Linked DNA regions of Homo sapiens. The protein of the gene in region 2 purifies or fractionates together with the protein of the main gene of each other region. This does not show direct contact. Each region holds a gene or a part of one and is shown on either strand. Other genes may lie near its edges. The genes, in order: BCAP31, PGRMC1, MAP2K7 and DUSP9.

Region 1 (7,024 bases), about 34 Mb from region 2:
CGCGATCTCGGCTCACTGCAACTTCCGCCTCCCAGGTTCAAGTGATTCTCCTGCCTCACCCTCCTGAGTAGCTGGGATTACAGGTGCCCACCACCACGCCTGGCTAATTTTCGTACTTTTAGTAGAGACAGGGTTTCGCCATGTTGGCCAGTTTGGTCTTGCACTCCTGACCTCAAGTGATCCACCCACCTTGGTCTCCCAAAGTGCTGAGATTACAGGTGTGAGCCATTGCACCTGGCCTTTTTTCCAATAGTCTTGAATGGATGTCAAATTAGAGAATTGCAAGCCACTGAGGCTGACTTTGCATGGGCTATTCGGCCATTGGAGAAGAGTACAAAGCTGGATTTCCATTTTGCTCAGGGCCCTAGAGCTCGTGTGTGTGCTTTCTCTTCAACTCCTGTCCTTTTTGTCTTCTTCACAGATGGCAGAAGATTTTCAAGTCCCGGCTGGTGGAGTTGTTAGTGTCCTATGGCAACACCTTCTTTGTGGTTCTCATTGTCATCCTTGTGCTGTTGGTCATCGGTGAGTGAGCTATGGCTGAGGGCAGCTACCTGACCTAGACCCTGGTCTCTGCTGCAAAACCCTTTGCCACTTTTGATGTGTAGCATCCAGTTTTGGCTGCTAGGAGACAGACCAATGAAATGCTGTGTCTTTCTCTTGAGGGAGGGAAGAGGCTCCCTTTGCCCATGCTGCTGACCGCTAGTCGGTTCTTCACTTTGAGGCCCCTCTAGGCCGTACATGGTGGCTCATGCCTGTAATCCCAGCACTTTGGGAGGCTGAGGTCGGTGGATCACCTGAGATGAGGAGTTCGAGATCAGCCTGGCCAACGTGGTGAAACCCCATCTCTACGAAAAATACAAAATTAGCTGGGCGTGGTGGCGGGCACCTGTAATCCCAGCTACTTGGGAGACTGAGGCAGGAGAATTGCTTGAACCCACGAGGCAGAGGTTGCAGTGAGCCTAAATCGCACCATTGCACTCCAGCCTGGGCAACAAGAGGGAGACTCCATCTCAAAAAAAAAAAAAAGAGGCCCCTCTAGCAGTGGGCGTGGGCTTATACCAAGCAGTTTGTATGCAGCTTATGACGGCCACCTTACATTGCTTTTTTTCAAGACCTTGGAAGGAGGGACGCCTAAGGTTTCTGAGGCTGCTCCTCAGGTCACTCTAGAACTGAAGCCAAGAGAAGCTAACTGGCCTGTGACCTTGGTCTGAGTAGTGCTGCTCACCAGTCACTTAAACAGCAGAATTGCCTGGAGCAGGGCCTCTAATGGGGGACTGAGCAACCAAGCACACAGTGAAGTCCTGCCATTCCCTGTAGTAGTAGGAGGAGAACACAGAGATGTGTGGCAGCATATCTTGGGGAGAGATCCTAGACCTCTCTGCATCTGGGCTAGACTTGAGGTTTTCCCAGGTCGTTCCAGCTCTGTAGTTCTGTAAACTCTGACATTGAGGTGTACACTAGCAGGTGCTTGAAAGATAAACTGGTCCAAGGGCAAGCAGGCTCTGGGATAAGGCCAGGCCAGGTGGTGGTAAGATGAAAGGCAGACATTTTGCAATGAGGTGGTAGGGTGACCATCTGGAGACAAGAATCAATAAAGCTCTTGTCTGACTGGTAGATGTTTGTTGTTTTGCTGTGGTAAGTGATCGATATGTCCCCCTGTTTGGGCTCCAAAGTATTGGCTTGGCTCTGCTGTGGACACCACTCTTGTCTCAGAGCTGTGGTGCCTGCCTAGGCGTGGAACACTCCTCCCACCGAGTCCCAGCAGAAACACTGAGCGGGTGGGGGGCTGTGGTTCAGGGGAATGTGCAAAGCCTCACCCACCAGCTTCAGCATTAGGCATTTCTCCTTCCTGATGTCTCAGAGCCTGATAGGATATGTTCAGGCTGGACTGCCTCTGAACAGGCCAAGTGTTACCTGACAGCTTCCAACCACATAGGGTAGGTGCCAGCTGCCTGAGCACCTCAGTGTTCTTGAAATACTTGGCAAGGCCCCAAGAGGTAGTAGCTCTTTCTAACCAGGGTTCTCGCCCTGAGCAGCCTCCAAGCCAGGAGTAGGTAGGTAATATATGTGTCATCCCCAGGCCACTGAGTTTTTGAACTGAGCATGTGTGTTTTGGCTTTTGGGTCTGGGGTGGGGGTAATAACTGGGGAGGGGAGGGACCATGCTGAGGATGATTCCCTCAGGGTCTTGCCCCTTCCCCAAACCAGAAGGAGTATGTTTCTTTCCTAGAGCAGCTGAGTGGGCTGGAGAGATCCTTTGCGGAATCCAGTAGTTGACAAAGCCTTCATTCTTTTTTGGGATCGGGGAACTGCTTGGAAGTTCTAGGGGGACATATGGCCATGATGACTGGCTGCTTCCTACTCCCATGTTAAGAAGCATAATCTAGAAAGATCTGCAGAGCCTTCTTCAAACAGAAGTGTTAGTCACAGGTACTAGTGAAGGGTAAGGGGCATAACTAGCTAGAGCTGTGGCCTTGCTTGGGGGTGGGGAGGGTTGAGCAGATCCTCCTGGAGGATGGAGTTGCTGAGGGTGCAGGATCTTCCCACCTGGGCTGAGGCCCGAGACAGGGAGGGCTGGTTTCTACTGTGGGACTTGGGTTAGTATTGCTCAGTCCCCCATCCCCACTATTGGTCATTGGCCAAGGTGGTCCTTAGGATGGTGGGGTTCCTGGATGCAGGTGACAGTGTAAGGAAACATGTTTATCTTGTTTTTCTGATTACAAAAATAATGGGTAATTATTCTTAAAAATTCAAAAGTTGAATTTAGAAAGTTAAACTCCCCATAATCCCATTTCCCACAGGTAACCATCATGAGTATTTTGTTGTGCATTTCCAGAGGGGTTTTGTATGCTGACATCTTTAATAAAATGTCTACAACGGTGGGATCATACACACAAAGTATTTATGTTTCTTTCCACATTCCTGCTGGGACATGGCAGGAGGAGCATTCCACGCCTGAGCTGGTAGCACAGCTCTGAGATAAGACTGCTGTCCATAGCAGAGCCTAGCCAATACTTTGGATTGTGCTTTTTCTACCTGCTGCACGTTAGACATCTTTTTTTTTTTTTTTTTTTTTTGAGATGGAATCTCACTTTGTTGCCCAGACTGCAGTGCAGTGGCGCCATCTTGGCTCACTGCAACCTCCGCCTCCCAGGTTCAAGCGATTTCCCCTGCCTCAGCTTCCGAGTAGCTGCAGGTTACAGGCGCCCGCCACCATGCCCGGCTAATTTTTTGTATTTTTAGTAGAGACGAGGTTTCACCGTGTTGGCCAGGCTGGTCTTGAACTCCTGGCCTCAAGTGATCCGCCCACCTCGGCCTCCCAAAGTGCTGAAATTACAGGCATGAGCCACTGTGTCCGGCCAACATCTTTTTATAGCAATCTCATTCTTCTTAAAGATCATGTAGTATTCTCTCATGTGGTTGTGCCGTAATCCATTCTTTATAAGCATCTTCGAATCATTGCAAATTTATGCAAATACTTCTGTGGGATAATTTCAGAGGTGAATTGTTGAACCCGAGGGTATGAACATTTTGCATTTTATACAGGTGTGCTGTTTTTACCCCTGCTAACAGCGTTTGAGAGTACTCGCTTCGTGGTGCTGAGGGATGGGCAGATTTTTATAATGCAAGATCAACATAAAAACTAAGCAGCCTAAAACCGGAAATTAAGAACCCCATGAGGCCAGTGCCCTGACTCACGCCTGTAATCCCCACACTTTGTGAGGCTGAGGCAGTTGCTTGCGCTCAGGAGTTTGAAACTAGCCTGGGCAACATGGCGAAACCCCGTCTCTACCAAAAATAGAAAAAGAAAAAATTAACTGAGTGTGGTAGCACACACTTGTGGTCCCAGTTACTGGGGAGGCTGAGAGGTGGAGGTTGCAGTGAGCTGGGATCGTGCCACTGCACTCAAGCCTGGGTGACAGAGTGAGACCCTGTAACCCACCATACAAAAAGAACCTCGATACCCATACAGTGATACCTTGCTCCTCTCATATGGGAGTCTATTAAGAGCATTCTTTGGGTACATCTTAGTGTATTGACTTAAAACGATGTCTCAGGATGCATGGGGAAAAGCAGTAGGTTTGGCGTGGCTCAATTTCTACATTAGAGACAAATATAAATATATTTTTAACTGGAGCTCTATATGTCTAACAGCGGCTCTTTCAGGAGCAGAGGCTGCTCACTGACTCAGCAATTATTTCAGTGCCCACTCTGCACCCAGAGCTATCCCAGGCCCTGGGAATATAGTATAAAAGATTTCTGCTCTTATGAAGTTTGTAGTCTACTTTGGGAGAGATGGACCCAAAAAATGTGTTTAAAGAGAATTTCAGAGATGGATGTCTATTACGAAGCAGGTAACAGTGTAATGTGACTAAAAATGACTTTAGATGTGACCACATTTTTATTGTATATACTGCTAGATGTGATTATGTTATGGGATCCTTTCCGTTTCTACATTTTGGGTGTGTTTGAACTTTCGATGAGTGTGAATTCCTTTCGTAATCAGAATAAAACATTATAGATAATAAAACCCATTGTAAAGCTTTGAAATGAAACCCTTGACTCCTAGCTGGTATCCTGCAGGTCTTGACTCCTATTTTTTTGTTTGTTTGCTTGTTTTGTTTTGGCTTTTTCGAGACAGAGTCTCGCTCTGTCGCCCAGGCTGGAATGCAGTGGTGTGATCGTAACTCACAGCAGCCTTGACCTCTTGGGCTCAAGCGATCTTCCTGTCTCAGCCTCCCGAGTAGCTGGGACTACAGGTGTGCAGCACCATGCCCAGCTATTTAAAATTTTTTTTTTTTTTTTTTTTTTTTTTGTTGAGAGAGAGTCTCCCTGTGTTGCCCAGGCTGGTCTTGAACTCGTTGGCCTCAAGCAGTCTTCCTGCCTTGGCCTCCCAAAGTGTTGGGATTACAGGCGTGAGCCACCACATCTGGCCTGGGTCTTGACTCTTAAGCACCTTAGGTCCCCGGAGCAGGCATTTCCATCTCCAGGTTCAACTTATCATTGTGGGGGTTGGGGGGCTATGGGCCAACTTGAGATGAACAGAACAAGACGCGGTGAGGGTACCATGGGAAAAGGAAGCCACCCCCATTTCCAGAAACTCTTTAGGCTTGGTTAGCATCGTGAACTGCAGAGCAAGCCTGGGGCCTGTGTAGAATGGGGCCAGGGATTGAAAAGCTGGAGGAAGGAGTGGGTCTGAGGGTGGGAGCTTCCTTTTTTTTTTTTTTGAGATGGAGTTTCGCTCTTGTCCCCCGGTCTGGAGTGCAGTGGCTCAATTTCGGCTCACTGCAACCTCCGCCTCCCGGGTTCAAATGATTCTTTTGCCTCAGCCTCCCGAGTAGCTGGGATTACAGGCGCCCACCACCACGCCGGGCTAAATTTTTTTTTTTTGTATTTTTAGTAGAGATGGGGTTTTGCCATGTTGGCCAGGCTTGTCTCGAACTCCTGACCTCAGGTGATCTGCCCGCCTCTGCCTCCCAAAGTGCTGAGATTATAGGCGTGAGCCACTGCACCTGGCCTGAGGGTGGGAGCTTCTGATAACAGCATCCCATGAGGGGTGTATGTGCATAGAAGTGGGAAGAACTGGGGAGGCGGATTTGAGGGAAGTGAGTCTGACCTGTCTCATGCCGCCTGTCTGCCTGGTATGGCCTTATCTTGCCCTAGTGTCCGCTAAATGCCCGTGTCTCCTCTCTGCTCCACCACAGATGCCGTGCGCGAAATTCGGAAGTATGATGATGTGACGGAAAAGGTGAACCTCCAGAACAATCCCGGGGCCATGGAGCACTTCCACATGAAGCTTTTCCGTGCCCAGAGGAATCTCTACATTGCTGGCTTTTCCTTGCTGCTGTCCTTGTGAGTGGGGGGTTGAGGGGGCAGGTGCTGTGAAAGGAGCCATGGGCTAGCCATGGACACCGAGCTCAGTGGGCTCAGTCTCCCCCCTGTGACTTTGATTCCTCCTCAGTCTGTGGCCTGGATCCCAAAGCCCTGTCTGTGTTAGGGAAGCCACATAGTTTTCTCCTGACCTCCAGAGGCAGCGTGGAGAGTAGGAGAGGGCTGCCTGAAATATCAGAAGACCCTCACACACCACATACTCTCAGGCAAACAGATGACTATCTCACGGTCTGTTTGCATGGAGAGTGAGATGTAACGGTAAGGCCTTGCCCTCCTCTGGGAGAGGACCTTCAGAGTCCAGCTCACAAGGGAGCGACTGAATGGGGGACTCTTTGTGTCCGGGGTGTTGACCTAGGGACAGCAGGTAAAAGTGGCACGAAGAGGCTGGGCCTCTCCTCACCTCAGGGCCTTCCCCACGTGAAACTCGTAATGAGGACATGTTACATTCCATGGCAGCCAGAGTATTTCTGATGATTTTTTTGGTAAAACTAAGTACCTTAATCAAGGCTAAGGGTAACTAGTCGGGCAAAACTAGACCACTACGAAGTGCCTATTTGAGCCTGGGGCCCTGTTTGCTGCCTCCTGCTTCACATAGCCGTTCTGATCAGCAGGGCCTGGCTGGGAGGTGGATGGGAGCTCAGACCATGTATGAAGGCATTGGAAAGGCGCTTGCTTTGAGGGTGGAGCTCTCATCACTTAATCACTTCTCAAAAGACCCCACCTCTTAATGCTACGGCAGTGAGGATTAAATTCCAACACATGAAGTTTGAAGGGCACTCAGACCATAGCACCAAGTGATTCTCAGGCTCATGGACAGTTATTCCCCACTTGGTTTTGTGCCCCGAGACTCAAGAATCTCCATGCCTAGGAGATTCTTGCTCTCTAGTCACCTGGTGTGTCCTGCTTTACTAGGCGCTACGATGACTACTTGTCTTAAAATCTGTTGTTTAGATGATCTGGTACTCTCTGCGACCAAGTTGGAAAGAGGGGTGGAGCTAGAAAAGGCAAACACATTTTTTTCAAGATAATGGGTTTGATCACAGATTTGATCTACAAGCTTGCTGTCTTCAAACTTAGGAAAGTCAGGAAGGCTGGGAGGAGTCAGACACATACCCTAAATTTTTCAGGAAGTT
Region 2 (5,706 bases):
AATTTTACTTGCATTTAAAAGTTGTAAAATTTGTAAAAAATTTCTGAGTGTATTGAGGTTTCAGGTGAACAGGCCATATTGAAACTTGATCTATTCTCATACTTGGTTCCCTACAAACATTTTAATGTCAGGGCTGCTATTCAATCTGCCTTGGGGGAAACAACACATTGTTTAAAGTACACTGGATTCTCTTCATTTAGTTGTGCAATATTTAAATAAGTCTAAATATCCACTTTGTGTACCCACAGAATGATTCTCTGCTCTCTTAGACAAAAGTTCAGTATAATATCACAAATAATCACATTTTATAGAGTTGTTTTATAGAGTTGTTTTGCAGTATTGATTCAGCCTCTTTTCCATGAAAATTTTAGTATTTTCACAGTCTTCTCAAGCCCACCAAAAAACAGATAATGAAGACTGATCTCTGTGTTATCTATTTATTGACAGTGAAGGTTATGTAATGTGGATAGATTTTTAAACCACCGATACTGTTATAAAATGGTTCTTCTGCAGATGCCATGAGTTAATGTTTAATTGAGCCTTGGAACCAAAGATCTCTATAAGATACCTTTGTTTCATTAAAACATATCAGAATATATTCATAAGGAAATGTGTTTTCATGTACACATCAGTGCTTATTATCTTAAGAAACCATAACTCTCACTGGTGTAGCCCCAAGTGCCTAGAACTGTCAGGCTCCCAGTTCAATGTTCTTGTATGATTCCCTACTACCACTACCCCAAGAGATCACTAACCACGTATGACTTTTTTACTAGCTATTTGGAAACCACAGGAGACTGACGCAAATGTATAGCAGTTTGATTTACTTTTAGTTATTTAAAAGTTAAATGACAACAGGTCTTTCTGTGTCTCCTACATAATGTTCAGAATATCAGCATTACTATGGTTTCCTAATGGAATTTGATATTCAAAAATGGGGCTATGTTGATGAATAGGGAAGCCATTTTCTGTGTATAAATCACAGAGAAATTGACTGTCTAATAAAGAATTGATCTTTGGTTTTGTTTTTGAAGAGGGGCCGTATGGGGTCTTTGCTGGAAGAGATGCATCCAGGGGCCTTGCCACATTTTGCCTGGATAAGGAAGCACTGAAGGATGAGTACGATGACCTTTCTGACCTCACTGCTGCCCAGCAGGAGACTCTGAGTGACTGGGAGTCTCAGTTCACTTGTAAGCATTTTTAAAATTGTGTCTGGGTCAAATTTCTACCAGTAATGGGGATTCGTGGCAGGACAATAGTTATTACTAAGCAGCCTGAAACTTGGGTGCATTTTGATAGGCTCCTTAATCTTGGACGCATCAAGTTCATGGCTTGAAGTAATTGTAGCAGTGCTGAGTCACTTGCTATGATTGCATACCAATTTTTAGCCAGTTCTCTATGGAAACTTGGGTTTCTGGTTTTGATTTTAAAATTTTTGAGAGATTTGCTAGATTCCAAATGAGGATTTGGTGCTTGGTGTGTCAGGGAAAGGACAGTGTCCATCTTGGCTACAGAAAGGGATTTTCATAAGCCCTCTCTTGTAGAGCTTGCCGTTTAAAAGCAGCCCACATCTCTGTTGAAGAATGGGAGACTTGTATTCTGTGAAACAGCTTCTCTTTGAATCTAATTGAACCTAACTATAGGCCTCATCTACAAATGATGCTTATAATGTGCCCAGCAGCAATGGTGTCTGCATTTTTAAAAAGAAAGTAAAAAGGAGATGCTTGTTTCTGGCTTATGCTATGGGCTGAGGTCTTTGGGGAGAAATAGGAATGAGGGGTTAAGTTCAGATTTTGAGAATTCAGGAATTGGTTTCTGTCAAATCTAACTGTTTAATTGTCACTCTAGCAATATTTCACTGCCAAGAATTTGAATAAGAGTCTTTCCCAGCTTTTATGAAACAGTATATAAAGACCATGAGCATTATTTGAAGATTTTTCATTTAAAATGTAGTTTTCTATGTGTGTTCTCTATAATCAGTTAAATATTACATGTTCTCTTGGCTATATCCAACCATTTTCTTTGAAAATAATGCTGACTTCAGAGAGAGTTCTGGATTAATAATTAGCCAGATGTGTCTCTGCCTTTGAGTTTTGGTCTCAAGCAGGCTACATATAACTTCCAAGTCTAGAGGCAAGTTTTTATACTTTGGAAAACATAGTTCAGTTACCTAATAGAGTCCCTAATTTTTGGCATCATAAGGATGCCTTTGTAATTAGTTTTCTATATGAAACCAGTGAATTGTAGTGTCTAACTTACAAAGCTCTATTTTCTAGGGCTTGCCTTCATCAGTGGGAGAAAAAGTGTGATTTTTTTTTTCCACTTTAAGGCTAGCCCCAGATGCTGTTGTGACACCTCAGCTACACTTAAAGTTGGTGTGGATTCCCCTTAAGGCAGGTTTCCCAGGAGCCACCTGGCTTTTATTTGTCTCACACAGTTCCAATTGTTCCCAACGGTTATTTCACACAAAAGCAGCTTTAGTTACCTGGTTAGACAGGTTGGTTACTCCTCTAATTCCTACTCATATTCAGGAAGAGGAGACTCTTGGCTTTGGACATTCAGATGATCGACCCTGCATTAGTTTGGCTACAGTGATGAGGTGGTTTGCTGATGCCATCTCTTCTCAAGTCTTTTGCATTCTGGTTTGCACCCTTACATCTGTTTTCTCCAACACCTCCAGTCATCTCCTGGCTCCTTTACCACTTCCTTTAACCACCCATAGGTTTTTCTCTGTGCTGGGAAAAACGTTCTGTCTCTTGCTCTCCTCTTCATCTATGAGACTATTATTCCTTCCTTTCACTGTCAAACAAACTTCTTACAAGTTTTTATTCCTAACCACTACTTCATTTCCTCTCTATACCTTCTTCCTCCCTACAATATGGCTTCTATCCCCACAATTGGATTGAACTCTCTTTCTGAAAGATTTTCAGGGAAACCTTTTTTTTTTTTCTTGCCAATCCTGACTTCACTTGTCCATTCCATGTTTTAGATCTCCTGTCATGTGAGCCTCCAGAATGGCTCCCTCCACAGAGTTCCCATTTTGGTCCATGGGAGCTCCAATTTTCACTTAATTAATTCATGCTTCCAGTTTTCTTTCAAAGTACTTCTCATCTGTCCCTTTCCATTCCCCTGGACACCACCCTGCTCCTGGCGCTGGTTCCTTTGCATCTGGATCTGCACTCTGCCTCTGGATCGCCCTGTTCCCAGTCTCTCCTTACTGAAATCTGCCCTATACACCACATTGATAATATCGTTGTTAAAGCACTATTTTACTGTGTCATTCCTTCGCTTATAAACCTTCAGTGCCCTTTGCCACCTATAAGTCCAAACTCAGGCTGGCTTTTCAGATCTTTCATAATATTTCCCCACACTACTTAGCCAATCTTATCTCCTACTAACTTCTAAATGTTAACTCTACTCCTGCCAACTTGGTCTCTTCATTGCTTCCCAGATACGTTGTCTCACCTGTATGCATTTGTACATGGCGTTTGCATTTTCTGGAACTCCCTCCCTAAATCCTTCTATACATTTTTCCAAAATATATCCTCCTTCCATGAAGTATTCTGTAACCCTTCTGATGAACTCATCACTTGCCCTTGTTCTTCTAAACATTCCTTACACACAAACAATTCATTTTGACGTTACCTTGCACACTCATTGCCAGACGTTGCCACCTGTTTTATATGTCTGTCTTCTGAACAAAACAAATTCCCTGTTGGCAAGGACGGTGGTATAAACCACCTTTGTATCCTTCAAGAAGCCCAACACATTGCTGAGTATATTGCAGGCCTCTAATAAATGCTTTAAATTGAAACGTGGTAATGATGTTTTAGAAAGAATGAGAATGACCATTTGTGTTTTCTTCTCTACCTCCAGTCAAGTATCATCACGTGGGCAAACTGCTGAAGGAGGGGGAGGAGCCCACTGTGTACTCAGATGAGGAAGAACCAAAAGATGAGAGTGCCCGGAAAAATGATTAAAGCATTCAGTGGAAGTATATCTATTTTTGTATTTTGCAAAATCATTTGTAACAGTCCACTCTGTCTTTAAAACATAGTGATTACAATATTTAGAAAGTTTTGAGCACTTGCTATAAGTTTTTTAATTAACATCACTAGTGACACTAATAAAATTAACTTCTTAGAATGCATGATGTGTTTGTGTGTCACAAATCCAGAAAGTGAACTGCAGTGCTGTAATACACATGTTAATACTGTTTTTCTTCTATCTGTAGTTAGTACAGGATGAATTTAAATGTGTTTTTCCTGAGAGACAAGGAAGACTTGGGTATTTCCCAAAACAGGTAAAAATCTTAAATGTGCACCAAGAGCAAAGGATCAACTTTTAGTCATGATGTTCTGTAAAGACAACAAATCCCTTTTTTTTTCTCAATTGACTTAACTGCATGATTTCTGTTTTATCTACCTCTAAAGCAAATCTGCAGTGTTCCAAAGACTTTGGTATGGATTAAGCGCTGTCCAGTAACAAAATGAAATCTCAAAACAGAGCTCAGCTGCAAAAAAGCATATTTTCTGTGTTTCTGGACTGCACTGTTGTCCTTGCCCTCACATAGACACTCAGACACCCTCACAAACACAGTAGTCTATAGTTAGGATTAAAATAGGATCTGAACATTCAAAAGAAAGCTTTGGAAAAAAAGAGCTGGCTGGCCTAAAAACCTAAATATATGATGAAGATTGTAGGACTGTCTTCCCAAGCCCCATGTTCATGGTGGGGCAATGGTTATTTGGTTATTTTACTCAATTGGTTACTCTCATTTGAAATGAGGGAGGGACATACAGAATAGGAACAGGTGTTTGCTCTCCTAAGAGCCTTCATGCACACCCCTGAACCACGAGGAAACAGTACAGTCGCTAGTCAAGTGGTTTTTAAAGTAAAGTATATTCATAAGGTAACAGTTATTCTGTTGTTATAAAACTATACCCACTGCAAAAGTAGTAGTCAAGTGTCTAGGTCTTTGATATTGCTCTTTTGGTTAACACTAAGCTTAAGTAGACTATACAGTTGTATGAATTTGTAAAAGTATATGAACACCTAGTGAGATTTCAAACTTGTAATTGTGGTTAAATAGTCATTGTATTTTCTTGTGAACTGTGTTTTATGATTTTACCTCAAATCAGAAAACAAAATGATGTGCTTTGGTCAGTTAATAAAAATGGTTTTACCCACTATAGTGTGGTGACTTATTTAAATTTTTTTAAAAACCTTATTCTAGGGAATCTGATTCAGACATTTTACTTTGGCTTAAAATTCAGTTTCATTTTTGAGTGCAGAGTTTTTGTATTCCAAAAGAAACAAGGGGCAAAATTTCATGGAGACCCCACACCAAAAACCAAATACCAGCTTGTCCTGTTTAAGAAATAGTGAATTGAATTGCTTTTTTTGTGACTTGTCAAAGTTTTGCCTAAATCAGAACTTTCTAAACTGTAAATGGCAGACCTCCACCTTGAAGTCTATAGCAAGGTTCTTAAGAAGTAAGGTTACTGAAGGCATTGTCATTGCCAAGTGCTAAGGAAGGGTTTGGGTTTTTTTGTGTTAATGTATTGTCTGATCAGGAAAGTATCAGGAATCCTTACAGTAGCAAAGTTAATTCACCTCGTGTCAAAAGAAGCATAACAGATTTGCATATGCAGTCAGTTGTATAAACAAAGACAACCTATTAGTGTTTTGTCATTTTAATGTTAA
Region 3 (7,024 bases), on a different chromosome or scaffold from region 2:
AAATACAAAATTAGCCGGGCATGGTGGCACATACCTGTAATCCCAGCTACTCGGGAGGCTGTAATCCTAGCTACTCGGGAGGCTGAGGCAGGAGAACCGCTTGAACCCGGGAGGCGGAGATTGCAGTGAGCTGAGATCGCACCATTGCACTTCAGCCTGGGCAACAAGAGCAAAACTCCATCTCAAAAAAAAAAAAAACATAAAAGATTAGGTGGAGGTTGCAGTGAGCTGAGATCGCGCCACTGCATTCCAGCCTGGGCAACAGAGCAAGACTCCGTCTCAAAAAAAAAAAAAATTTAAAAAGCGTCTTGAAGGAGTTGGGGGGGGAGAGAAGACAGGGCCGCCAGGGCTCTGAGCGCAGCGCCAGCCTGTGTGGGGCATGCAGGCTGTGCCCCACGCCTGTGTTGGGAGAGAGAGTAGATGGGGTGCCTGGCCCTGTGAGTGGTTGTGAGTATGTGTGTCCGAGGGCAAGGGGGACTCTGTCCCGGCTGCATGGGTGTTAGGTCCACGGCATGCCCCGGGTGTGTGTTGTGCGTGCGTGCACTTGCACGGCATGTGCGTGCATGTTGACATGGCAGCCGGTGCACCTGTGGCTCCTGTCGGCAGACACGTGCCCTCCAGCCTCTCGCTCTCTCTCATCCGTTCTCTTTCTCATCCTCACCCTCTTGCTCTCACTCCACCCTCCTGAGCTGCCATGTGGCCATCACCACCTCTGTGGCCTCTGTTCTCAGGGCCTTTGTGTACCTCCTTCCCCCAGTGCCTACCTGAACCCTCCCTTCCATCCCCCCATGCTCCAGTCTGTGGTCCGGCAGCCTCCTCCCCAGGCTCCGGGGCCACCCTCGGAAGGCCTGGTGGGCTCTGTCAGGGAAGGGGCCCACAGGACTCCTCGAGGGCTGTGGTCGTCAACCGCTGAGTGCAGGGTGTGAGCGGGACTCGGATACTCTCTGAGGGCGGGAACTAGGCAGTGTCTCAAGAGATGCCAGGTGCACAGGGGTTGGGGGCTGGGTTGGGGGGAGCACAGGCCCTCGGGAGCCAGAAGGGGACTGGGGCTGTGGCTCAGGCCATGGACAGAGCAGAGGCGCAGGGACCTGAAGAAGCAGAGGGAGAAGCCTGGCCAACATAGCGAGACCCCATCTCTACTCAAAAGACAAAAATTAGCTGGGTGTGGTGGCGTGTACCTATAATCCCAGCTACTCAGGAGGCTGAGGCAGGAGAATCACTTGAACCTGGGAGGGGGATGTTGCAGTGAGTTGAGATCACGCCACTGCACTCCAGCCTGGGTGACAGAGCGAGAACCTATCTCAAAAAAAAAAAAAAACAGTGGGAGGTGACGTGGTGCTGCAGAGGCGGCAGTGGCCAGGACAGCGGGAGGGGCACGGGAGGTGAGGCCTCTAGGCCAGTCATGAACGCTGGGCCTGGCTGTGTCCCAAGGTCCCCAGAGCCCTTCCCCTGCTCCTGCCTGGTCCTCCAGGAGGGGAGCTAGGGGGCACAGCTCCTGCAGGGGCTGGCAGGACCAGATAGGGGCAATGCTGGGCCTCCTGCATTGGGACTGAGGCGTCTTCCTGCCCCTCCTACTGGCTGAGATCAGGGTCCTGGGCACACGGGAGGGACGGGGTTTAGCTGCCAGCATGGAGCGGGTTTGTCTGTTCATATTAGTCCCTGGGCACCAGTCACCAGGAGCCTGCAGAACTGTGGGGAGAAAAGGTGGACGAGGCAGGAGGAAAAGAGGGGAGAGGGGCTTGTTGGCTGAGGGCTTTGGAGAGCGGCAGGCCCCAGCTCCTGTGGGAGGGGCACCTTGGTAGGTGTGTGTAGCCGTTGTCAGGGCCTCTAGGATGTGACGTGTCAGGATTGGCTCCTCTGGAGGCCACGTTAGCATCCCGGCCTCTGTTCCTGCACCCTGTTGCCAGCCCAGCCAGGGAGACCCTAGCTCCTCCGGGAAGCTGCCCTCCTGTCCCAGGCCCCTCTCTGGCCTGTCTCTGCAGCGCCTCCTCTGGGCACCTGGGCCCTAGTCTTGGTTCCTGTCTGTCTGTCTGTCTCCTGCCCTCCCACCCCTAATGCCGCCTGCCCACCCCAGGGTGCCTGCTGCCTGCCCGCCGCCTGCCCACCCGCTGTAGCATGCCCGAGCTGCCCGCATGCAGGCTGCTGGATGAGCCAACCCCCGCCTGGCCCAGCATTGGCCCCACCTGGTCCCGCCAGCCCCTGCAGGAGCTGTGCCCCCGAGCTCTCCTCCCAGAGGATGCAGGCCCCCTGAGGTCCTGTCCTGCCCCCATGGGCCCCAGCTCTGCAGGCCAGGCCAGGAGGCCCTCATGTCAGCCCACTGGCCCGAGGGGGGCCCTCCCTGACCCCGGAACAGAAGATAGGGCAAGGCAGCCTGAAGCCTGGGTCTCGTGCCCGCTGCCTCCCCAGCGTGGCCCTGCTCGCTCTTGTCTGGGAGCCAACTTCAGTGCTACCAGCAGAGCCACAGCCTGGGCCAGCCCTGGCAGGCACTCCGCCCTGGCCTATCCATCCTGTGGGTGCTGTGGCCCTGGGCCTGCTTCCTGGGCAGAAGTGGGAGGAAGTGCACACACCTGTCAGGGAGGCCCCCTGGCCGAGGGACACCTCAGGTCCCCATCTCGTTTCTCCGTCAGCGTAGACTTGGGGCTCCCTCTCCCCTGCTAGCCTCCTCCATCTCTTTCCAGGTCAGGGGATGAGACAAGGGACCCTGAGAACAGTCTGGGGTGGGAGGGAGACCCCAGCTCCTCCAGCCCAGCAGGGCAGGGGGCTGTGCCAGCCTAGCTCGGGAAACCCAGGAGGGGAAGGTGAGGGTCCCGACCCCTCCCTGGAGTGCCAGATGTGGAGCTGACACCAGCTGGGCGCTGACCCCCCTCCCTGCCACTGGTTCTCACCCCCCTAGCCCTGCAGCTCCCGCTGGCCAACGATGGGGGCAGCCGCTCGCCATCCTCAGAGAGCTCCCCGCAGCACCCCACGCCCCCCGCCCGGCCCCGCCACATGCTGGGGCTCCCGTCAACCCTGTTCACACCCCGCAGCATGGAGAGGTGAGCCAGGGGCCCAGCAGGGTTGGGTGGGAAGCAGCATTGAGGGGCCACCGTGCCAGCCCTGGGAGGAGGGTGGTTAAACCGGTGGGAACCCCGGTATGGGGGACTGGGGTGGCCAACCTAAGGTCAGGACCCACCTCCACCGGCACCTGCTCCATGTCCCCAGCATTGAGATTGACCAGAAGCTGCAGGAGATCATGAAGCAGACGGGCTACCTGACCATCGGGGGCCAGGTACCACCTTCACTGTGGCGGGGAGAGGGAGGAGGCCCAGCCAGGCTGGACCCATCCTGGGAGCGCCAGTGGGGGGCAGGGGGCGGTGGCAGAGGCCCCAGGGACCCTCCAACCCTCCCTCTCCTCCCAGCGCTACCAGGCAGAAATCAACGACCTGGAGAACTTGGGCGAGATGGGCAGCGGCACCTGCGGCCAGGTGTGGAAGATGCGCTTCCGGAAGACCGGCCACGTCATTGCCGTTAAGGTGAGCCTTGGCGGCTACCCCGGCTGCGCCCCACACCCCAGGCCGGTGCTGAGGCTCCCTCCTGTCCCTGCCTGTGCAGCAAATGCGGCGCTCCGGGAACAAGGAGGAGAACAAGCGCATCCTCATGGACCTGGATGTGGTGCTGAAGAGCCACGACTGCCCCTACATCGTGCAGTGCTTTGGGACGTTCATCACCAACGTGAGTACCTGGCCGCGCCCTGCAGCGTCTCCTCCTCCCTCACCCCTGCCCCTTCCTAGGGAGCAGAGCCTCTGGGGGGTGGGCCGGAAGACACAGCTCCCCCGGGTGCCCCTCTCCCTGCAGACGGACGTCTTCATCGCCATGGAGCTCATGGGCACCTGCGCTGAGAAGCTCAAGAAGCGGATGCAGGGCCCCATCCCCGAGCGCATTCTGGGCAAGATGACAGTGGCGGTGAGTGACCAGGCGGGGCTTGCACTGGGCAGGATGACAGAGGCGGTGAGTGACCAGGCGGGGCGTGCACTGGGCAAGATGACAGTGGCGGTGAGTGGCCAGGTGGGGCGTGCACCGGGCAGGTGGCCTTGGGTCTGTGCCCCCTGCCACATGCACCCCCCTCTGCGTGCCTGCAGATTGTGAAGGCGCTGTACTACCTGAAGGAGAAGCACGGTGTCATCCACCGCGACGTCAAGCCCTCCAACATCCTGCTGGACGAGCGGGGCCAGATCAAGCTCTGCGACTTCGGCATCAGCGGCCGCCTGGTGGACTCCAAAGCCAAGACGCGGAGCGCCGGCTGTGCCGCCTACATGGCAGTGAGTGGGGGCCCCCCAGCGGGGGAGGGGGTGGGGGCTGGGAGGCCGGCCCCAGCCTTGGAGATACGTCTTCTCCTCCCCCCCCTGCAGCCCGAGCGCATTGACCCCCCAGACCCCACCAAGCCGGACTATGACATCCGGGCCGACGTATGGAGCCTGGGCATCTCGTTGGTGAGTTGGGGCCCTCCCCTGTTCTCCAGCCAGGAGTGAGGGCTTCTGGGGGACTCGGAGGGAGGAGAACATAAACCTGTCCAGCCCTGCCCGTCTCCCTCCCAGGTGGAGCTGGCAACAGGACAGTTTCCCTACAAGAACTGCAAGACGGACTTTGAGGTCCTCACCAAAGTCCTACAGGAAGAGCCCCCGCTTCTGCCCGGACACATGGGCTTCTCGGGGGACTTCCAGTCCTTCGTCAAAGACTGGTGAGAACCTCCCTCCACTTGGGAGGTCAGGGACAGCCCGCTGCTCTGGGCAGCTGGGGAGGCAATGGCAGGAGGGGAATGGAGGCCGCACCCTGGGATGGGCGGATGCGACTGTGGGCGGGCTCCTGGCTGGCGGCTGCCACAGGAGCTGGAGCTGGTGCCCAGGGAGCCATGAGCTGGGTTTGGACCTAGCCTGAGGGGACAGCCAGCCCTGTGGCATTTGGCGGGGTGGCTGTTGGAGATTGTGAGCACGCTTCTGCAACAAGCACAGCTACAAGTTCAGGAGGGCCATGTTCGATTCTCTCAGGGGAGCCCCACCCACCTTTCTGGGGGACCTCAGCCAGCTCTGGCCCCCCAAGCCAGGCCCTTGCCACCTGGCCCTAGGCCAGGAGGCTCCGGGACTCACAGTTGCTCCCCGCTGTCAGCCGGGGTCCTGAGGACATCCACAGCTCCTTCCCCCACACACATCTTGGGGACCCCTGGCCCCTTGGGGAGGGCCTGAGCACAGGGGTGGGGCCGGCATCCCCTCCTCCCTCGTTCTCACATCTGTCTTCCCTTCTCTTGCTCTAGCCTTACTAAAGATCACAGGAAGAGACCAAAGTATAATAAGCTACTTGTGAGTACCTGAGCCCTCCCAGTCCCCGTCCTGTCCCTGCGGAGGCGCGAGGCCAGGAGGGAAGACCGTCTCCTCCTAAGCCCCACCCCCTCGGGCCCACAGGAACACAGCTTCATCAAGCGCTACGAGACGCTGGAGGTGGACGTGGCGTCCTGGTTCAAGGATGTCATGGCGAAGACTGAGTCACCGCGGACTAGCGGCGTCCTGAGCCAGCCCCACCTGCCCTTCTTCAGGTAGCTGCTTGGCGGCGGCCAGCCCCACAGGGGGCCAGGGGCATGGCCACAGGCCCCCCTCCCCACTTGGCCACCCAGCTGCCTGCCAGGGGAGACCTGGGACCTGGACGGCCACCTAGGACTGAGGACAGAGAGTGGGGGGTGCCCACCCACCCCCCCCGCCCCGGGCCTACCAAGCCCCCGCCCTTCCCACCCCGGGGTCAGCCGGCCGTGTGCGTCCCCCGACAGACACTGTGAACGGAAGACAGCAGGCCGCGATCAGAGTCGCTGTTCATTCAGCCGCAGCCTCTGGGCCGGGGCGGCCCCCAGGGGCCAGGAGAGAGCCCTGGAGTCCCGCAGCCACCATGCACGCTCCCAGCGTGCTGTGTCCTTCGCCACTCCCACGCGCCCGTTCCTCTTCCGTCGCCCTCTGTCCCCTGCTCTACCTCTCTGTCCTTGTCTGGCTCTCCCGTCACCCTCCCTGCCTCTGTCTCTCTTCTGGCCTGAGCCTGGGCCCAGCCACCTCCTGACGGGTCCCCTGGGTCTGCATAGGTCTCCCATGGCGCAATGAGTCAGTGGCCCCCAGCCAGGCAGTGTGGGCATTGCCACTGCGGCTGGACGGGGCTGCGCGCTCGCGCTCTCTCTCTCTCTCTCTCTCTCTCTTTGATCTCAGGGGGTCCTTTTTGGAGTTTATTGTATTTTATTGTACTTGGTGGGGTGTTTGGGGTGGGGGCGGAGGAGAGCTTGTTCTCGTGGGGTTGTCGGTACCTTCAGAAACTTTTACCAAAGTCACGATTAGCTGCTTGTGGTGGGGCCCCAACCGCCCTCGGGCACTGGGGAGCTGGGCTGGGGCTGCTGCTCTGGGGTCTCCGGGGGCCACAGCTTGGGGTGAGTTGAAGACCTCAGGGGATGTGGAGGGGTCTGCGGGGCCCTGGCCGCACAGGATGGCCTTCAGGGAAGGTGGTCTTGGGGCATGGTGCAGAGCAGGTGACCGGAGGGAATCGGTGACGGAGCGGGGCCAAGGGAGGGGTCCGGAGGGAGTCAGGGATGGAGGGCAGAGGGAGTGGATGTGGGGGTTTGAGGACGTGTGACAAGCTCCAGCAGGGGTGGGGGCCGGGCTGAGGGTGGGGGTGCGAGGTGGTCACTCCCATCGTGCCCCTGGCCGTCCCTCCACTCACCCACACCTGGCCCAGTCCACGTTGAGGTCCAGGACTGGGAAGGACCGGGTGAGTGCACCGGGGACCCAGGCCAGGTGCCCCCCGGAGCCTGCTGGGGTGGCCAGAGCAGGAGGGGGTGTGTTTCCTTTTTGTGGGTGTTGCATGCAAATCAAGTGGACAAGAAAAAATAACAAAACAAAAAACAAGAAAAAAAAAACACAAAACCCCGTAAAATCACAAAGAAAATCCAACACCAAAGGCGCAGAAGCCGGCTGGCCGTGGTGGGGGCAGCGTAGGCGTAGCATCCCTCTCCTCTCACTTA
Region 4 (7,820 bases), about 34 Mb from region 2:
TCCTGCGAGTGGCGCTCCTCCAGCCGCAAGCTGCGCTCAAAGTCCAGCAACTGCCCCATGAAGTTGAAGTTGGGGGAGATGTTAGACTTCTTCCTCTTGACCAGGTCATAGGCATCGTTGAGAGAGAGGTGGAGCTTCTGCATGAGGTAGGCCACAGTGACGGTGACAGAACGGCTGACCCCCGCCAAGCAGTGGACGAGCACCCCGCAGTTCTGGGACAAGGCCTCATCTAGATGGGGCAGGAAAGGGCCCGGGAGACCCGGAGGGCAGGCGTGTGTGAGGCCGAGGCCTTCCGAAGGGCCCTCAAAGGCCCCGCCCTGCCCCCTGGGCCAGATGGCCACGACCTGCAGGTTTCTCTAGTGGCCTCTGGGGGCCGCCCTAGCTCTGCCTGTCCCCTAGAACTGTCACCTAGGCTTTTGGCTCTGGGAATGGCAGCGGGGCTTGGGAGGAGTACTCACAAGGGGGAGGCCAGAGCAGGCCTTGGGGAGGACAGGAGGGAAGGGTGGGTGGGGTGGACTCACCAATGAACTCAATGGCCTCCGGAAAGAACCGCGACAGGTTCTGGCTCCAGTGGTCGGAGATGGGGATCTGCTTGTAGTGAAAGTCACCATTCTTCTCGAAGAAGTTTGGGAGGTTGGGGGTGACATTGAGGATGTAGCGGATGCCCAGTTTGGCCAGGCTCTCCAAATTGGCGGAATCCCGGGCACTGCCCAGATAGAGGTTGGGCAGGATCTGGACAGGGAAGGATGCCCGCAGCCCCACTGGTGGGGGTGTGGCACCCTCCGAATCCAGGCCACAGCTCATGGAGTCGCGGTCAGCCTCGGATTCCGCATCAGAGCAGTCGGAGCCCAGGCACAGGCTGCCCAACCCCACCACGGGCACTGGACCGGGCACCGGCGCCATGCTGGAGCCGGCACGGCCAGCAAGGCTGGTCTCACACAGGTGAGGGCACTCGGCCTGGAATCTGCTGAAGCCTCCTGTTGGGGAGAGGGCATGGGGCCTGCTGACCTGGCCTTCTGGGCAGCCAAGTGCCTCTGTCTGGGGCTGGGGAGATGACCCTGGACAACTTGGAGGGTTTGCAAATGTTCCCAAAGGGAACACAAAACCCAGCAGCTTGGTGTGTCCTGGTACCCACGTGGGGCCCTAGCCACCCTCAGTCAGCTCGGGCTGCAAGAAGCTGGGCTCACGCTGAGCCACCGGAAAGGATCTTACACCCCTAGGGTCAAGCTGAGGCAGGTGTGAGGGCTCAACAGAGCCGAGATGCACTGCCAGCCTTAGGGAGGACTGCGGCCATCAGCTAAAGAAAAGGAGGAACTCAGATGTCAGCTCTCTGCCTGGGCATCTCCTGACTCTCAGGGATGAAGTGGGACCCCAAGATGTGGGGGAACTTGGGGGAGAATATGGCTCAAGAAGCCAGCATCTCTATTTACAGATACTATTTCCCCGGGCTGGACACCTGACACTTTATATGCTGTTCGGGAGGCTAAGGCAGGAGGATCGCTTGAGCCCAGGAGGCTTCAGTGAGCCGTGATTGCACCAGTGCTGTCTGACCCCTGCCTCCCTTGCTCATTCCTGAGCAGGTTGGGGAGGTGGGGATACCCTTGCCGAGACCCTGGGGAGCCCGCACTTTGTAATTCGTTCTTGAGCATCCTGAGAACTAGCTCAGGTCAGGCTAATTCTCCCCATTTTCCAGGCTCAGAGACTGGGCTGCCGAGGGTGAAGAACTTCCCCACGGTCACACTCAGGCTTCCCTCCTCTCAAAGCAGCCTGGCAGGTCATCAGGGGAGGGGGGCCTCAACTCGCTTTAGAAAAAAAGAAGTGGGGCTGGCCTAAGGTCAAATGAATCCCGAACCCCCTGGAAGGAGGGCCCCGCGGCACCTACCCTGGAGGTAGTAGGCCAGGTAGCCTTCCTCTCGCAGCTTCTGCAGCAGGGTGCCCAGCACCGACTCGGCCTCCCACTCCTCGGCCTCGGCCTCGGCCTCCCCGCGCCGGCGCCGGCCCCCGCCCTGGTCGTACAGGAGCACGGGGGCAGGCGGGGGCGGCTGCAGCGGCGGCCCAGGCAGGAGCGCGCGCACCGACAGGCTGCCCCTCCGCAGGCGGCGCAGCAGGAGCGCCGGCAGGGCCACGCTCAGCGCCCCACCGATGCGCGCCGACTCGTACAGCTCGCGGCTGCGGCAGTCCAGGAGCAGGAGCCGCGGCCGCGGGGGCGACAGCTCCCGACGCAGCCACAGGCACGAGCGGCCCAGACCCTCCATGGGCGATCGGCTCCCTACACGCTGGACCACGGGCGCTGCGAAGAGAGAGAAGGCGCGGTGTGAGCTACCGGAGGGCCGAGGGGGCTCAGACTTGAAGCCGGCCCCGCGTCCTGAAGGCGGGAGCCCAGGGTCCCCCACCATGAGGACTCCCAACAAGGCGCCCCAAGAAACCCCCCAGGCAGCAGCTCGGCCCGGGGAAGGGTCCTCGAGAAGAGGGCTGAGCGGCTAACCGCCCCTTCGAGGCTCATCTTGGGGTACCCTGAGGTCGCAGCCGCCTCCCTCCATACCCCCTTTCTGCTCCTGTCTCGGTCTTCTCGCGAACGCTCCCCAAGTTCGAGCTTCCGACTCTGGCTGGGGGTGTGCGTGCGAGGAGTGCCGTTCGAGGCCTAGATCTCCCCCAGGGCCAGGTGGGCCAGGGGAACAGAGGAGGCGCCGAGGTGCTGGGCCTCAGCGAGTCCTCTCAGAGGTGGTCTGGCCCCCGGTCCCCCATCTCCCCCTACCCCTAGGAGAGAACAAAAGGAAAGAGACCTGGAGCGAGATCCGGCGGTGGACGACCGCGCGTGGACGTTCTGGCCACGGCCACTGCCACGGCGGAACGCGAGGCGCCGTCCCGCGGCAGAGAGTCCCCAGGCCTGGCCGCCAGGAGAGGGCGGGGCGGCGGTGCAGGCTCGCACGTGGAAGCCGAGCCCCGCGCAGCCCGCGCAGCCCGCGCACCGGCCGCTTCCTGGCAGCCGGACCCAGCTTCCACCTTGGAAACTGCCTTCGGACGTGGAGTTACAACTCCGAGGGGCGGGCCGGGGCGGGGCTCCGGGGGCGGGCCCGGCGGGCCGGTGAGCCAACGGGTGCTAGCCGAAGCAGTCGGGTGGGACCTGCGAGTCGGCTGAGCTGGGGCTTCCACCGAGGCGGGACGGGGTCGGGGCAGAGGCCAAGGGCAGGTCAGGGGCCCAGCAGGGGACCAGCTGCGGCTCCCCTGGCCGGCGCCAGCCTGGCCTCGGGAGGCAGGGGGAGGGGTGAGGACCAGAGCCCAGCCCCTCTGCCGCAGAAGCTGCCTCCAGCCCAACTCACAGGGTGATACTGGAGCATCTTCTCCCCTGCCTGGATCTCAGTGGCCCCATCTCTGTAATGGGCTCAGAGCTAGCAGCTTGGGCAAACTTGGGATGCCACCGAAATCACGGAGGGGAGGAGGAGGCAGGACCAGAAACTTAGTGCAGCTTTGGCCCAGAGGTCTGCTGCAGGGCTAGGCAGGCAGGGGTAGCTCCTGGATACCTACCAATACCAGCCCGCTTCACTCGCACAGGACTGGCCAAAAGCACCCAGGAACCCTGAGCTCCCAGCCCTAAACTGGGGCACTCTGCTCTTATCACATTACTGATCCTAAGAGTCACCCGTGGCTCCCCCCTCTGCCTCCTTCCCTTAACCCCCCTTCGGCTAATCAAAGTGGAAAGAACTAGTTTCTACCTAAATATCTCTCACATCCACGCCTCTCTCCCCTGTCCCTTGCCCTAGCCGAGGGCTCAAATTCATCAGCTTTAGGCCAGGTCACTGTCACGTCTTGCACAACAGTCTCCCTGCCTCCGGGCCTGCAACGACCTGCCCTCCACCCTGCCCTGCCCAGCCCTGCCCAACGTCAGAATGCCATCCACTCAACCAAGGCTGGTGGCCTCCATCCTTTCCTCCATGGGCACAACAGGCGGGACAGATCCACAGGCAGCAAGAGCACTGGACAAGGTCTCAGGTGTGGTGAGCACTGAGGCAGGAGACCAGGGTCAGGGGGAGGTGTCCACAATGCTGATCTGGCTAAAAGTCCCTTCTCTGCTTAAAGCTCAACAAAAGCAAATAACAGTGTTGAAGGAAAATGTACGCCAGATAAGATAAAGCTCATACCCAACTAAAAGGTTAAGACCCCTGTAGATAAATGGGCAAAGAACCTGAAAACACTGCATACTGCAGGAAGGAGGGAATGCGGTGGCCTAACAAATATTTGGGGGAAGGTTCAACTTCAGGCGTGGAAGGAAAGCCACTCCAATAAACAAGTAACAATGACCAACGAGGTAACACTTCCCACCTACTGCATTAGAAATGTTCTCATTTTTGAGAACACGCAGTGCTGGCAAGATTGCTGTGAAATCAGCGTGCTGTTCAACTGTTGCAGGGTTATATATTGGTACGGCCCCTTTGGAAATTAATCTGGCAATATCAAGAGCTAGGAAAAAATCCCAACCCTTTGACCACTTTTGGGAATCTAAGGAACTAAAGTAAAAGAAAGCAAAGTTATGCACACGAGGATGGGCACCACAAAGCATTTTTCTAACAAGTGGAAAATGCAAAGCAAACTACGAGTCTAAAGACTCCTCTCAGGAGCCATGGAGTTAGAGGAGAAAATGTCTCAGGTCATGGTTAGGTAAGAGGGCAGGTGACGGAAAGCTAGGTGGGTCACCTCTAAGGGGCTTCCAGTTTGCCTCTCTCCCTCCCTTTCGGGCAGTGGGCTGCTAGCCGGGGACTCCCAGGACCCTGGCACTGGGCTGCTTTCCGGCCACACCCCCCATGTCCCTGCGTCTAACAAGAGTCCTAATTCCTGCATCCAAGGGCTTTGGGCAGCTGGACTGTGCCCTTCCTTCTCTCACCCAGTGGGCAAGGGCCCCAGCCCAGGCCTCCCTCCTATGCCCCCTGCCCAGATTCTGAGATTCTGCTCATTCTTCAGGCCCCCTCCTCCAGGCAGCCTTCCCAACTCGGAGCCAGTAGTCTCCCTCCTCTGTGCTCCCTAGTGTGGTCACTTTCCCCCTTTCTCAGTGTGTTCCTGGGGCAGGGACTTTGTCTTCTGTTTTCTGTCCACAGCCTAGCTCCACAGTGGTGGAGGTGGACACCGGCACCCAGCCTGGGGGCTGCCTCCAGGCCCACTGCAGCTGTGGGTGGGAGCTCAGAGTGGGCAGGGGTTGAAGGCACCACGGAGGTTCTGCCATGTGCCAGTCTTGTTGTGGAGAGTGGGGGTGGCGCAGGGCTGTGACCAGCAGGGAGCTGGACAGCCACTTCCCCGGCCCGCCCTGCCGTGGGGGCTCAGTTCGGCTAGAGAGGGAGCTCCTGAGCTGCTCAGTGGCGCTCTCTGGAGAGGGTTCCCTGGAGGTGAGAGGAGCTGGGCTGGAATGAGGACGGGGAGAGGCAACCTCCGCAATGGGGAAGGGAGGGGAAGCCTAGGATCCAAGGGTCCACGTCTCCCGACGCTTGGCGAGGGGCTCCCCTGCACCTAACTGCGGAGCCCTGCTGCCAAGTCCTCGCACCGGGAGAAAGCATTTGGGAGGAGGCCATGAGGGGCTCAATTTCCAAAGTCAGAGCTCAGTGCTCGGGGCCCACAGCGCCCGCAGCGCCAGCAACAGGACAAATGGGAACCTGTTGCCACCTCCGCACTGCAGGGCTGAGCGCAGCCAACCCCCTAATCCCCCTCTCACCCGCGACCCTCGCCGGGCCGCCCCCACTCAGGCCCCCTGTAGCGCCGGCTCTGGGCGCCGCCCCGCCGGCAGCCGCTCCCGGGTGCGCTGTGCTGGGGGAGGCCGCGCCGCGCGCCCGGGCCTCGTCTGGCCCCCTCCGGCGGGCTGAGCCAGGCCGCGCGCTCGCTGCCCGCCGCAGGGTGGGCGCTGCGCCTGCCGCCCCCGCCCCCGCCCCCGCACCCGCCCCCGCCGGGCGCCCCGGGCCTCCGCCGGGCCGGGCCAGCGCCCCCTGGAGGCCGCGGGGACGCCGCCGCCTGCAGGCCTCGCGCGCGCCGCGTGCGCCCTCTGGTCCCGGGAGCCTCCCGAGAGCGGCGCCGCGCCGCCTTCCCCCACGAGATGCACCGTTCCCGCCGGGCCGAGTGACAGGATTTCGGCTGTCGCGGCCGGGTCACATGGCCAAGAGCACAAGTCCCGGCGACAGCGTGCCTGCCAAATCCAGTGTCTTTTCCACCAAATCCACTTTCTGCTGGGGATGGCTTTCTGCTTTTCCTGGTCGGTCTCCTCGCGGGACTGGGAGTTCCTCCAAGGCAGGAACGGGTGTGTGCCCGGCCCCAGGCTGGCCCCAGCCCCCAGTGCAGGGCCTGGCACGCGCCCGGCGCTCGCGGAAGAAATGCTCGTTAACAAAGAAGGCATGAATGAATGAAACCAATTGTTGCCTGAGGGAGCTGCTCCTGCTTTTCCTTCTGCCGATCACACACTCCTCCCCCACCCCGACACGCACAAGCACACGTGCACACACAGCCCTCCCCGTAACACACACGCAGGCAGGCACCCAGACAGCGCGCGCGGACGCCAGCCCCCATGGAACCCACCTACTACGTGCTTGCCGGGCAGCTGGCGCCCCTTTGGTCCCACCTGGGCCGCCTCCATTTCAGCGCCGGGCTCTCTCCGCCGCCTCCCCGCCCCTCCCCGGGGCCCCTTGCTTCCACATCTAAGTACCCTACCTTGGACCCCAAAGTGCCTTCTTTATTTCTTAGGGAAGAGGCCAAGCTAGTCGCTGGGGAGTCTCAAGGTCTGTTTAGGGAGGCACCTGGGGGGCCCAAGGCTGCTGAGCCTCTGCCGAAGGGGAGCCAGAGGTGCCTGGCAGGGATGCCACCAAATGCTGCAGCCTCTAGAGCCCGCGTGCCAGGTGTTGGGGGTGAGGGAGGGAGGGACTCAGAGATGTGCTGGGGGGTGTCGAAGGCTATTTGTGATGGGGGCGGGGCAGGATGCTGGAGAGCGTGAATCCAGCAGGTGTGCGCGCGTGCTGGGGTGGATGAGAGTGCGCGTTGGAGATGCTGGAGGTGTGTGCCTGGGACGTGGGGAGCGTCAGCCACTGGGATGTGGGTTTCTGACGGGACCTCGCTCCAGGATGGGTGGACTGCAGTGTCTCTGGGCTGGCAACGTGGGTGGGGTGTCTGTAATGGGCAGATGGGGAGTTCGAGGTGGTGGGGGCATGGTAGGGGGAGCTATGTTGGTGCAGGTATGGCAGAGACGTGTTGGAAGCGTGCGTGTGCGCCTGGGTGTGTACTGGGGCGTGGCAGGGTCTCGGTGGGTTGGCATGAGTTGGGGACAGTGGTGAGTGGTGGGGCAGGGGCAGCTAGTGTGTGCACTACAGGCACCCGGGTCTGTGGTGCGTGGTTTGTATGCGCGCGAGTGTGCAGCCGGTGCAAGTGGCAGGAGACACGGGAGGTGCACGGGCGGCGTGCGGGGGTGTGCGGAGCAGCACCGAATGGGTGTCGTAGGGGCGCGTGCGCCGGCTTCGTGGGGTGTGCGTTGTCAGGACTTTGGGGGTGCAGGGTGGAGGAGCGCACGTCGGGGCGGGGGCAGCCAGGCCGGGTGGGGGGTGGGGGTCCCCGGGGCGCCGCTTGCTCCACTCACCTCCGCTCTGCTCGGTTCTCCGCGCCGGTTCCCTGCGTCGCGGCCGGGAAGTTTCCGAAGCTCGGGCGGCGGGAAGCGCCACTGCTGCAGCCTAACGCCACCGGAACCCCGGGTGGCGGCCTCTCCTGGAGCCGAGGGGCAGCCGCCGCCGCCGCTGCGGAGGGAAACTCCAAATCCCGCCTCCGCCGCCGCTGCCTCCTCCGCCTCTGCCGCCGCCTCCTCC

Evidence for each region.
Region 1: the proteins of PGRMC1 (region 2) and BCAP31 purify together in Homo sapiens (affinity purification with western blotting; 2 studies listed by BioGRID and IntAct, with this or other methods). This does not show direct contact.
Region 3: the proteins of PGRMC1 (region 2) and MAP2K7 purify together in Homo sapiens (affinity purification with mass spectrometry; 2 studies listed by BioGRID and IntAct, with this or other methods). This does not show direct contact.
Region 4: the proteins of PGRMC1 (region 2) and DUSP9 purify together in Homo sapiens (affinity purification with mass spectrometry; 3 studies listed by BioGRID). This does not show direct contact.

The regions. Positions count from the first base shown.
Region 1 is NC_000023.11:153,714,370-153,721,393, reverse strand, and holds part of BCAP31 (B-cell receptor-associated protein 31), read left to right. Parts: intron 1-421; coding exon 422-522; intron 523-5,704; coding exon 5,705-5,852; intron 5,853-7,024. UniProt on the Homo sapiens protein: Functions as a chaperone protein. Is one of the most abundant endoplasmic reticulum (ER) proteins.
Region 2 is NC_000023.11:119,239,275-119,244,980, forward strand, and holds the end of PGRMC1 (membrane-associated progesterone receptor component 1), read left to right. Parts: intron 1-1,034; coding exon 1,035-1,190; intron 1,191-3,876; coding exon 3,877-3,980; 3' UTR 3,981-5,192; downstream 5,193-5,706. UniProt on the Homo sapiens protein: Component of a progesterone-binding protein complex. Binds progesterone. Has many reported cellular functions (heme homeostasis, interaction with CYPs). Required for the maintenance of uterine histoarchitecture and normal female reproductive lifespan.
Region 3 is NC_000019.10:7,906,862-7,913,885, forward strand, and holds part of MAP2K7 (dual specificity mitogen-activated protein kinase kinase 7), read left to right. Parts: intron 1-2,893; coding exon 2,894-3,035; intron 3,036-3,201; coding exon 3,202-3,268; intron 3,269-3,398; coding exon 3,399-3,512; intron 3,513-3,591; coding exon 3,592-3,711; intron 3,712-3,834; coding exon 3,835-3,942; intron 3,943-4,118; coding exon 4,119-4,298; intron 4,299-4,388; coding exon 4,389-4,469; intron 4,470-4,553; coding exon of another isoform or gene 4,554-4,574; coding exon 4,575-4,717; intron 4,718-5,287; coding exon 5,288-5,333; intron 5,334-5,435; coding exon 5,436-5,570; 3' UTR 5,571-7,024. UniProt on the Homo sapiens protein: Dual specificity protein kinase which acts as an essential component of the MAP kinase signal transduction pathway. Essential component of the stress-activated protein kinase/c-Jun N-terminal kinase (SAP/JNK) signaling pathway.
Region 4 is NC_000023.11:153,642,389-153,650,208, reverse strand, and holds the start of DUSP9 (dual specificity protein phosphatase 9), read right to left. Parts: upstream 3,007-7,820; 5' UTR 2,784-3,006; intron 2,291-2,783; coding exon of another isoform or gene 2,256-2,290; coding exon 1,883-2,255; intron 978-1,882; coding exon 522-977; intron 230-521; coding exon 1-229. UniProt on the Homo sapiens protein: Inactivates MAP kinases. Has a specificity for the ERK family.